Linked DNA regions of Homo sapiens. The protein of the gene in region 3 purifies or fractionates together with the protein of the main gene of each other region. This does not show direct contact. Each region holds a gene or a part of one and is shown on either strand. Other genes may lie near its edges. The genes, in order: SLMAP, PRKAR2B and IDUA.

Evidence for each region.
Region 1: the proteins of IDUA (region 3) and SLMAP fractionate together in Homo sapiens (co-fractionation; one large-scale study listed by BioGRID). This does not show direct contact.
Region 2: the proteins of IDUA (region 3) and PRKAR2B fractionate together in Homo sapiens (co-fractionation; one large-scale study listed by BioGRID). This does not show direct contact.

The regions. Positions count from the first base shown.
Region 1 is NC_000003.12:57,857,192-57,860,902, forward strand, and holds part of SLMAP (sarcolemmal membrane-associated protein), read left to right. Parts: intron 1-541; coding exon 542-637; intron 638-896; coding exon 897-968; intron 969-3,507; coding exon 3,508-3,648; intron 3,649-3,711. UniProt on the Homo sapiens protein: Associates with the striatin-interacting phosphatase and kinase (STRIPAK) core complex, forming the extended (SIKE1:SLMAP)STRIPAK complex.
Region 2 is NC_000007.14:107,051,063-107,054,773, reverse strand, and holds part of PRKAR2B (cAMP-dependent protein kinase type II-beta regulatory subunit), read right to left. Parts: intron 1-3,711. UniProt on the Homo sapiens protein: Regulatory subunit of the cAMP-dependent protein kinases involved in cAMP signaling in cells. Type II regulatory chains mediate membrane association by binding to anchoring proteins, including the MAP2 kinase.
Region 3 is NC_000004.12:1,000,544-1,004,075, reverse strand, and holds part of IDUA (alpha-L-iduronidase isoform a precursor), read right to left. Parts: intron 3,465-3,532; coding exon 3,379-3,464; intron 3,195-3,378; coding exon 3,087-3,194; intron 2,609-3,086; coding exon 2,513-2,608; intron 2,398-2,512; coding exon 2,195-2,397; intron 2,095-2,194; coding exon 1,915-2,094; intron 1,808-1,914; coding exon 1,591-1,807; intron 1,345-1,590; coding exon 1,132-1,344; intron 1,041-1,131; coding exon 919-1,040; coding exon of another isoform or gene 732-918; coding exon 606-731; intron 528-605; coding exon 451-527; exon of another isoform or gene 447-450; intron 65-446; coding exon 1-64.

The DNA.
Region 1 (3,711 bases), on a different chromosome or scaffold from region 3:
CAGTTAGAGAACCTCTAATAGCAGTACTTTCAGCCCAACAAATGAGACTAAAATGATGTGGCCCATATACATGGAGTAGCCATTTCCTATCTGCAGGGAATATGTTCCATGACCCCCAGTAGATGCCTGAAATCACAGATAGTACCAAACCCTATATCTACTATGTTTTTTCCTATATATACACATACCTATGATAAAGTTTGACTTATAAATTAAGCATAGTAAGAAATTAACAATAATAATAAAATAGAACAATTACAACAGTATACTGTTATGTGAATAAAAGTTATGTGAATGTCAACATTCTGTCTGTCTCTCTCAAAATATCTTGTACTGCACTATAACTGAAACTGTGGAAAGGGAAACCAGAGATAAGCGGGGACTGCTGTATGTTTTACAAAGTACTATCAAGTTTCACTACTTTAAAATACATCAAGTGGGATGTAATATGAAAATATTTTAGAATATGCTGAAAATTGATCACTCCTCAAAAGAATCATGATGAGCTTATTAGAATCTGTTTTGTGATTTGTAATACTAGGAGGCCTTACATCGGGAACAAATGTTGGAACAGAAGTTAGCCACGCTTCAGCGGCTACTAGCCATCACCCAAGAGGCTTCAGATACCAGTTGGCAGGTATTCCAGTTGTTTTATATTTAAGAAACATTTAAACATAGTTTAATATTCCATACATGTTAAATAAACTAAAATGTAGCAAACAAAGACAAAGTTATTTCCTAACTAATGAACAAGTTGTTGAAGATTTAGCATTTTACAGTGGATGCTGGTCAGTTTTACGCTTTTATATCTTTTGTTGTCAGTAGCAACCTTTTTTTATATACATGTGACTTTATAATTACTCGGGTTTTACTTACATTTAATTTTTCTTCAATAGGCTTTAATAGATGAAGATAGACTCTTATCACGGTTAGAAGTTATGGGAAACCAATTACAGGCATGCTCCAAAGTAGGTATTAACCTCAAATGTGTAAAATGAAATGCATAGTTTTTTATGTAACATCATTTCTTTGACTATCATTTTGAGTATATGCTAAAAACTTCATACATTTCCACAATTCTTTTAAATCTTTTGTGCTGAGAAACGTCAGACATCCATGTAAATAAAAATAATTACATAATGAATACCCATGTACAAGTCTGTCTTTTTTCTATTGCAGTTAATATTTCTTGAAAAAACTGGGTCATTTGTCCTCTAGAATTTCCCTCAGTCTGCATTGTTATTTAAACATTTTTTAGCTCCCCCTCCCACTCCATAAAGTAGTAGTTCCATCTAGAGATTTGATGTGATTTAGGTTCAGTTTTTCTTTTTGTCAACAACACTTTATGGATGGTATTGTGTTCTTCCACCAAGGGACAACATAATGTCTAGTTGTCTTTCTTTTTGAGATTTTTATCAATCATTGATGATCCCAGGCTAGATCCATTATTTCATTACGGTTACAAATAAGGCTGGGCGCAGTGGCTCACACCTATAATCCCAGCACTTTGGGAGGATGAGGCGGGCGAATCACCTGAGCTCGAGAGTTCAAGACCAGTCCAACCGACATGGAGAAATCCCATCACTACTAAAAATACAAAATTAGCCGGGCATGGTGGCACATGCCTGTAATCCCAGCTACTCAGAAGGCTGAGACAGGAGAATCCCTTGAACCCAGGAGGCAGAGGTTGCAGTGAGCCAAGATCGTGCCATTGCAATGTAGCCTGGGCAACAAGAGTGAAACTCTGTCTCAACAACAACAACAACAACAAAAAAGTTACAAAAATAATGATGTAATTCTGTTATTCCTTCACTTATTTAGCTGGGTTACTTCTATAAAGAGAAGTTTCCTTCCATACACAGTGGCTCATGCCTGTAATCCTAGCACTTTGGGAGGCCAAGGCAGGCGGATTGCTTGAGGTCAGGAGTTCAAAACCAGCGTGGCCAACATGGCGAAACCCCGTCTCTACTAAAAGTACAAAAATTAGCTGGACATGGTGGCATGTACCTGTAATCCAAGCTACTCAAGAGGCTGAGACAGAATTGCTTAAACCCGGTGGGGGTGGAGGTTGCAGTGAGCCAAGATCGCACCTCTGAACTCCAGCCTGGGCGACAGAGCGAGACTGTCTCAAAAAAAAAAAAAAAAAAAGCGGGGGCAGTTTGAGACCAGTATGGGCAACATGGCAAAACCCAGTATCTACCAAAAATTAAAGATTTGCTTAGCATAGTGGTACATAACCTGTAGTCCTAGCTACTCGGGAGGCTTAGGTGGAAGGATCGCTTGAGCCCAGGAGTTTGTGATTACAGTGAGTTATGATCGCAGAACTGCGCTCCAGCCTTGGTGACAAAGAGAGACCCTGTCTCTAAAAAAACGAAAAAAGGAAAAACAATGGCCATTGTTTTTTGTAACTTTGGCATCAAAAACCAAATACCACATGTTCTCATTTATAAGTGGAAGCTAAGCTATAGGTATGTAAAGGCATAAAGAGTGCTATAATGGACATTGGAGACTCAGAAGTTGGGAAAGTGAGAGGGGAGTGAGGGATGAAAAACTCCCTATTGAATACAATATACACTACTCAGGTAATGAGTGCACTAAAACCCCAGACATCACCACTACATAATTCATCCATGTAACCAAAAACCACTTGTATCTCTAAAGGTATTGGAATAAAAAAATTTAAATAACCCTGAGGTATGTTTTCTACGGGGAAAGCAAGATAAGTGATTTTCTCCCCTTATTTATTAGATTTCAGAATAATGAATTGGTGGTTTTTCATCTACCAAAGACTGGCCATGAAGTGTTTTCTCACTCCACTTAGATTTAAACATATTTGATGTATTTAAATCTGGTGCAGTTGTTTTTCTTGTTTTAGAGACAGGGTCTTGCTATGTTGCCCAGGCTGGTCTTGAACTCCTGGGCTCACGCAATCCTCCCATCTCGGCCTCCCAAAGTGCCACGGCCAGCCTATTTTTCTTATTGATGCTCAAATTATCCCATCTTTGGTCTGTGTAAATGTCTTCAGAGTGATAGCTTCATGCTGTCATTTCAGACAAGATGTTTCAGGCTCATTTTGTACTTTTCCTGCCCCAGACATGAAGTCTGCTTTTCCCCCATGGTACTCTTATTCCTTTTGTTTTAACCATTGTTTCAGAATGCTTGGTGCCTTTGAAGGTAATTGATTATTTTTGCCTACAAATGTGAATATGGTGGCTTGCAGAAAATATGACAAATATAAAAGTAACTAATTTTGTATATTTTAGGGAAATTCTCAATTGCCTATAACTTTTTTTTTCTATAGGAAGTGGAAATTAGTAAGTTTGTGAAGGCATAATTTACTTATGCAACTTGTAAATACATCTTTAGTTAATACAGGGCCAGAATCATTTATGTTTGGAGGTACCTTAATATATAATTTAAAGTATATCATAATGTGTTAATTTTTTTCAAACAATAAATGCTTTTAAAAAATAACTTGTCTATAATTATAAATATCTTTTATTGTAGAATCAAACAGAAGATAGTTTACGAAAGGAACTTATAGCATTACAAGAGGATAAACATAACTATGAGACAACAGCCAAAGAGTCCCTGAGGCGGGTTCTTCAGGAGAAAATTGAAGTGGTTAGAAAACTTTCAGAAGTTGAGGTATTTCAATCAAAAAAAAAATACTAAATAGTATTATGAGTGTTCAAAAAAATCTCAAGCATT
Region 2 (3,711 bases), on a different chromosome or scaffold from region 3:
TTACATTCATACACATTTACCATTAGACAGTGTTCAATATTTTAAAAAACATTTGCACACCTACTGTGAGCAAAGCACAACACATACAGGAAAGACTTAGAAAGAGAGGGTATATTCCTGCACATTCTTGCCTACCTAGACTGAGGACCCTTGACATCTGCAAAGTTGACTGATGGAGGCCATATTCATCCTACCATATTGATAGTATTAACGTCAAGGAGGGAAACTTGCAAAAATATTTGGTAGGGTAAAATATAAACTAAACCTTTGGGAAAAGAGTGAGATTTAGCAGAAAGACAGGGAGAGGGGAGTGAGAATTCAGGACCAAGAGAATGACTTAAGACAAGAATATTTGGCTATATCAATTTAGAATCATGTCATGTGCCGCTATATACCGTGGTTTTTGTTTGTTTTGTTGTTTTGTTTTGTTTTGAGATGGAGTCTCACTCTGTCAAGCAGTGCTGCGATCTCAGCTCACTGCAAGCTCTGCCTCTCGGGTTCACGCCATTCTCCTGCCTCAGCCTCCCGAGTAGCTGGGACTACAGGCAACTGCCACCACGCCAGGCTAATTTTTTTGTGTGTATTTTTAGTAGAGACGGGGTTTCACCAAGTTAGTCAGGATGGTCTCGATTTCCTGACCTCATGATTCGCCCGCCTCGGCCTCCCAAAGTGCTGGGATTACAGGCTGTGAGCCACCACACACGGCCTACTGTGTTTTATTTACTACTTAATGCATATTTACAAAAGAATTGCCTTTCTTTCATGTATTTTTACACTTATTTAATAGGTAATCCAAGCACATGCTAAACATTTTTCAAAAGTTACAAGAAAGCAAATAGTGAACGATCTCTCTCCTAACAAAATAACCTGAAATACTCTATGAAATTGCATTTCTTTTCAACTATTCTAAACTTTAGACTTTCTTCTAATTCTGACTGGTATTTCCATAATTTACTGATTCCTAACCAGAAAACTATAATACGATTCTCTTTGTCCCATCCACAAATGTTGCACCAAAAACATTACCACTATACAATTGGAATTCAAGGTATATACAGGAAAACAGGTTTTAAAAGAAAAAGCCTGGATTTTCCCCTTCAGGTAACGTAGTTTTACTTCCTTTTTATAAGATAGAATTTTCCTCTGTATTCTGCCAACTTCTGTTGAGTCAATTAACTTACCGAGTGACTGTCTTTTAAAAAAGACACACACACACACACACACACACACACACACACACACACACACTCTTTATAATCTAGAAGCTTGAATCAGGGAACCAAAATTGATCATGGCTACTTTATATATTACTAGAGTATCAATTTAAGTGGTATTGTTTACAGCTGTAGTCTCCAAAACGGGGTTCATGTATGCCAAAACAGTGTATAAGGCTATATGTTGGGATGTAGGAGAAAATTACAACTTGCTTAGAATTGCTTTTTACTTTCTCCTTTCAAAATTTATATTGTAGGAAGCTTTATCATACATATAAGTCAATATATTGTCACATGTATAAAATTTATCAACATATATTGGGGTGTACACTCAAATATATTTTGCTAATAAAGGTATATAATAAAATAAATTTAGAGAATTAAGCAGCTCAGTACATGAGGTGATTATTTCTAAAATAAATAAATGTAGGCTGGGTGTGGTGGCTCTTGCCTATAATCCCAGTATTTTGGGAGGCTGAGGCAGGTGGGATCACTTGAGGCCAGGAGTTCCAGACCAGCCTTGCCAACATGGAAAAACCTTGTCTCTACCAAAAATACAAAAATTAGGCAGACATGGTGGCACACACCTGTAATCCCAGCTACTCAGGAAGCTGAGGCAGGAGAATCACTTGAACCCAGAGGCAGAGGCTGCAGTGAGCCAAGATGGCACCACTGCACTCCAGCCTGGGCAACAGAGCAAGACTCTGTCAAAAACAAAATAAAATAAAATAAACAAATGTACTGAGTTTCTAAGGTACATGAAATGCTAATTTGGGTTGAATAGACAGAGAATGCAAATTGTAAAAGGGAGAGATCAATGCAGGGCTAGCCTGCAAACTTTTAGAGGGAAAAGTAGGTAGCTTATTTTTTGATATGTGCTTATTTTCAACCACGTTACTGCTAAAAGAATTACTGAAATGAAGTGTATAAACCGTGGTTGAAGAGGAAGACCCTGAAGTCAGATTACCAGGTTCAAACCTTGATTCCACCAATTACTCTGGGGAAGACTAAATCACATATGTGTAAAGCATCTGTTCAGATGACAATGTGTAAAGCACTGTTCCACATCTGATACATCAGTAGTCAAAAATGTTAATAATAACTAGTATTAAATAAAAAGGACACCATTTATTTATTTTTTTGAGACAGAGTATACCTCTGTTGCCCAAGCTGGAGTGCAGTGGCGCAATCTCGGCTCACTGCAACCTCCGTCTCCAGGGTTCAAGCGATTCTCCTGCTTCAGCCTCCCAAGCAGCTGGGATTAAGGCGCCCGCCACCACGCCCAGCTAATTTTTGTATTTTTAGTAGAGATGGGGTTTCACCATGTTGGCCAGGCTGGTGTCCTATTCCTGACCTCAGGTGATCCGCCCGCATCGGCCTCCCAGAGTGCTGGGAATTATAGACATGAGCCACCGTGCCCGGCCTAAAAGGACACCATTTAAAAGACATTAGTTTTCTATAATAATGAGAACGAAACAGCCGAATCATGTTTTAATTCAACATGACCTTTGAAAAAGATGCTCTTTGGGTGTAACTGAAATATATTAGAACAAATGGAACAAACGGCTTTTTTCCTTCTCTTTTTACCCCCCAAATTCCCCTCAACATCACTCCCATGGACTATTTTGTCTTGGAACAGCTAATGTAAATTAAACAATGTCATCCTTAGTCAAACAGATACAGGAATAACTGTATACAGTATATCTTCTTGGCTTCACTTTTATGTGGAACATGTGTTTACATTTTGACCTTTTGTCTTTTTTTTAATTAAGAAACATTTTTAAACAGCAGCAACTGGAAAGACTTTTTTTTTTAGTTTCCAAACATATTAAGCTACACATGGCAGAGCCTATTGCTGAAACATTTATAAATGTTACACCAACTGTTTATAGTTCTGATTTTCTTATTTGATTGTTTTGTTGTCATGTAAGCCATGACCTGAAAATTTTAGCTCAAATTCTTTCCATAAAATTACATAATGAAACCGTCTGAGTCATTTTGAATTTGTGAAGCACAAAATTCGCTCTCATAAAATAATGATAAGCATCATAGTGAGGTTTTTAGAGTAGGATTTTGTGACTGTCCCAACCACAACTAGATGATATAGATAAGACAGGAAGGACAAGAACAGGATCAAGAACACAGTAACAATTCATTCAATTCAGAAAAATCACTGCATTCTTGTTTCTTTTCCATTGTCTCTTCTTAAGCAAGTGATAGGAAAATATAGTCTAATATTAGATTTCACTTCATTGAAAAAGAATCAAAGAACAAAAAAACCTGGAAATTCTGAAGACAAAAGTACTTTTCTTTAGCCCATCCTTTTAAACCTTATCAATCAACTTGATGGAAGACAGAAAAAATTCATATGATGTAAGTTAATATAAATAGCGCACAAAATGTTGGCAACAGTTGTATGAACAAACTCAAATTTATAAGGCCAAAACCTACCAAATTTGGATAAGGAACTTCTCTGTCTCTCACCTGCCCCATCTAT
Region 3 (3,532 bases):
CCTGCTGACCGGGGTGTACGCCTTACCGTCCTGAGAGAACTGGATCTCGTATGTCCACAGGCACCTGGGGAGGTCAGGCCAAGAACAAGGCTGGGGTCAAGACAGTCCTCAAAGGTGGGAGCAGGCAGGGCACGGCCGCGTGGACCCACAGCCTCATTCCCTCAAGCCCCTCGGCGGCACCTCCCCAGCCCCTGGGCACTCTTCCTGCCCAGGCAGGAGAGGGCTGGAGCCCGAATGTCCATCTCATGTCCCCTAGGAGAACCCACACCCCACTGGCAGGGCCTGGCGCGTGGCCCACAGTGTGTGGGGTGAAGGGCAGGGACGCAGGGCGGCGAGGGAGGGAGCCGATGGGCCACGGCAAGTGGCCCGAGTGACCGCATGGGTGAAGGGGTCGGGACCCAGGGACCTGCCTAGGACCAGGCAGAGGGAGGGGCGGCCCCACTCACGCACTTGGAGCCCACGTGTTCATCCGACCAGACCAGAACCAGCTGCCCTTGGGTCAGGGGCAGGGCGCGGAGCCGCGTGACCTGGGGGAGGGAAGGGCTGTGATGGCGTCGGGGAAGGGGAGTCCGGGCCGCGGCGCGGGTTAGGGGACTGCCACTTGCCTGCCCGGGCGGCTTCTCGGGGCGCGCACACACGTGCACCAGCAAAAGCGACGGCAGCCGCAGCGCGGGGCGCAGGGTCAGGCGGCCGCCGGCGGGTAAGGGGCGGGGCGCCGCGGCCACCGGGTCCTGGGCGCAGTGGCCGGTCCTCAGGGTTCTCCAGGGGAGCTGGGGACGCTCGGCCCGACCTCAGGGCGAACGCCCCCGGCCCACCGCTCCACCTCCCACCCACACCGCCTCGGAGCCCCCGCCCCGGACCCCACCCCCCCGGGACCCCGGCCCGGCCCGGCCCCTCGCCCCTCCGCGGCCCACCTACCTCAGCCGCGCGCATGCGCCGGAACTGCTCTGCCGTGGGGAAGACGGGCCGGCCCAGGCGCCGCCACTCGCCGTCGGGGCTGCAGAGCCCGTTGTCCAGGTAGCGCGTGACGTAGACCAGGCCTGCGGGGCCTGACACTCAGGCCTCGGCTCCCCGGGCCGCCCCCTCCAGAGCCCCAGCGGGGCCAGAGACCTCCCTGGAACCCCGGCTTACCCGGGCCGGGGGGCACCCCGCGCAGCCGCAGGGTCACCGCGACGCTGCGGTTGGGGTGGGCGCGGGTGTCGTCGCTCGCGTAGATCAGCACCGCGGCGCGCCAGGCGTCGGCCGGGCCCTGGGGGCGGTGGGCGCTGGCCAGGACGCCCACCGTGTGGTTGCTGTCCAGGACGGTCCCGGCCTGCGACACTTCGGCCCAGAGCTGCTCCTCATCTGCGGGGCGGGGGGGGGCCGTCGCCGCGTGGGGTCGTTGCCCAGCCGCCCCCCGACCCAGGGCCGGGCCTCCCACCACTCGCTCCCCCTCCCCTTGGTGAAGGAGTCCCCAGGCCCCGCCACGCGGAGGCCGACCCCGGGAAGCGCGCGGCTGGAGGAAGTGCGCTCCCCGCAGCGGGGCCTTCGCAGGAGCCGCTCCCCAGCCTGGAGGGCCCTGGCCGGCCCACCCCAGCGGCCCCGGCTCACCCAGCAGCGCCAGCAGCCCCATGGCCGTGAGCACCGGCTTGCGCAACAGCTGCACGTGCGGCGGGCGGGTGTTGTTGACCTGGAAGCGCGCGGTGAGCGTGCGCTGCGCGAAGGGGTGCGGGTGGTAGCTCAGGAAGGCATTGTCGTTGCTCAGGAGCGCGTAGGGGAAGGCGGAGGTGGTGTTGGCCAGTAGCAGGTTCTGATGCTGCGCGATGACCTGCGGGTGTCCAGGGCAGCTGGGACCGGGTGGCGCGGCCACCGCTCGCCTGTCCCGTCTCGGGAGGAAGGTGGCCGGGGGGCGCGCAGGGCGTTGGGCCGGCCCACCTTCACCACCATGGCCGCGTAGGTCACGTCCGCCCTCCACGGCTGTGGCAGGGACCAGCCCACCAGCGGGTCCGCCTCGTCGTTGTAAATGGGGGTGTCCGCGAACTTGGGGAAGAGCTGCCGGATCTGCTGCGCGACGACCTTCTCCTGCTCCAGGATGGAGATGGAGCTGCGCGCACCCTGCGGGCGGGGCCGCCTCAGCACCACCAGGGTCAGCGCGGCCCGGGGCACAGCGGCTGAGGGCGCAGAACACCGGGGCGGACGGAGGGGCAGGGCGCACCTTCCTGTGGAGGGAGATGTAGTCCAGCCGCACGCCCGCCTCCCCAGTGAAGAAGTTGGTACCGTCGTGGCAGTGGCGCAGGAGGCCCCAGCTCAGCGGGGATCGCGGTGGGGTGTGGAAGGAGTCGCCGGGGCCTCCCAGCCGCAGGGCGGGGCTGGCGGCGCGCAGACCCTCCGAGCAGGCATCGTAGTAGTTCAGGAAGCCTGGGCCGGGGGAGCACTGCGTCTACACCTGCCCTGGGGATGAGCGGCTTAGCCTCTGCTCCTGCCTTCCTCTGCCCCCTTTCAGCCGGGCAGGACCCCAGGAAGCGGTGCACACCTTGCATGGTCATGGAGACGTTGTCAAAGTCGTGGTGGTCTGGCTCATTCCACGTCTCGAAGTTCCACTTGGAAACATGCGCCAGTCCGTACCTACCTGCAGAGGAGCCTTGCTGTCCCCCCAGCACAGGTGAATCTCGCCTCAGTGACTCCCACGGAGGGAGGGTGCAAGGTGATGAAGGGCGTCTGACTCAAGATGAACCCCATCTCCATGCAGGCCAGCCTCCCGCCCCACATCAGGAAGCGCTGGCTCAAGGGGGTCCAAGACCTGGGCGGCGGCCTGGGTGATAGGGGTGCGGCCTGGGTGATAGGGGTGCAGCCTGCCCAGGAGTACCCCCCACCCCAGGGGCCCAGGGCCTTCGCCCACCCACCAAGCCCAGGAGTACCCCCCAGCCTGGGGCCCCAGGGCCTGCGCCGACCACCAACCTATCCCTTGTCACCCCCATCCCCCCACAAGGGCCTGCGCCTGCCCACCAATGTATCTCCTGACCAGGCAGCAGCCTGCGTGATAGGGGTGCAACCTGCCCAGGAGTACCCCCGCCCCGGCCAGGGCCCCAGGGCCTGCGCTCGCCCACCGATGTATCTCCTGGCCAGGCTGGAGACCAAGTCCTTCCACTCAAACACCTGCTGCTTGTCCTCAAAGTCAGTGAAGTGGCCCGAGGCGCTGCCCATCAGCTCAAACCCTGGAACACAGGAGGGCTGCCCCACCGCCCACCACACACCACACCCATGCTCTGCCAGGCCTGTGCTCCGGCACCAAGGCCAGCCCTGAATGGACATCCAAGGACTCAGAGGGGCTGGGTGAGGGAGAGGGTGGGCAGGGCAAGGGGGTGCAGGCGGGCTGGGAGGGCAGAGCCCACAGCTCACCTGGGAGGAGCTGGTTCTCCCTGAGAAGGTCCAGGTACCCGTCCAGGTGGGTGAAGTTGTAGCTCAGGCCCCGTCCAGTGGACCCCCTGCAGAAGGACGGTCAGCGTCAGGAAGCAGGGTGCCCACACAGCTCCATGCTCCAGGCTGGAACCGT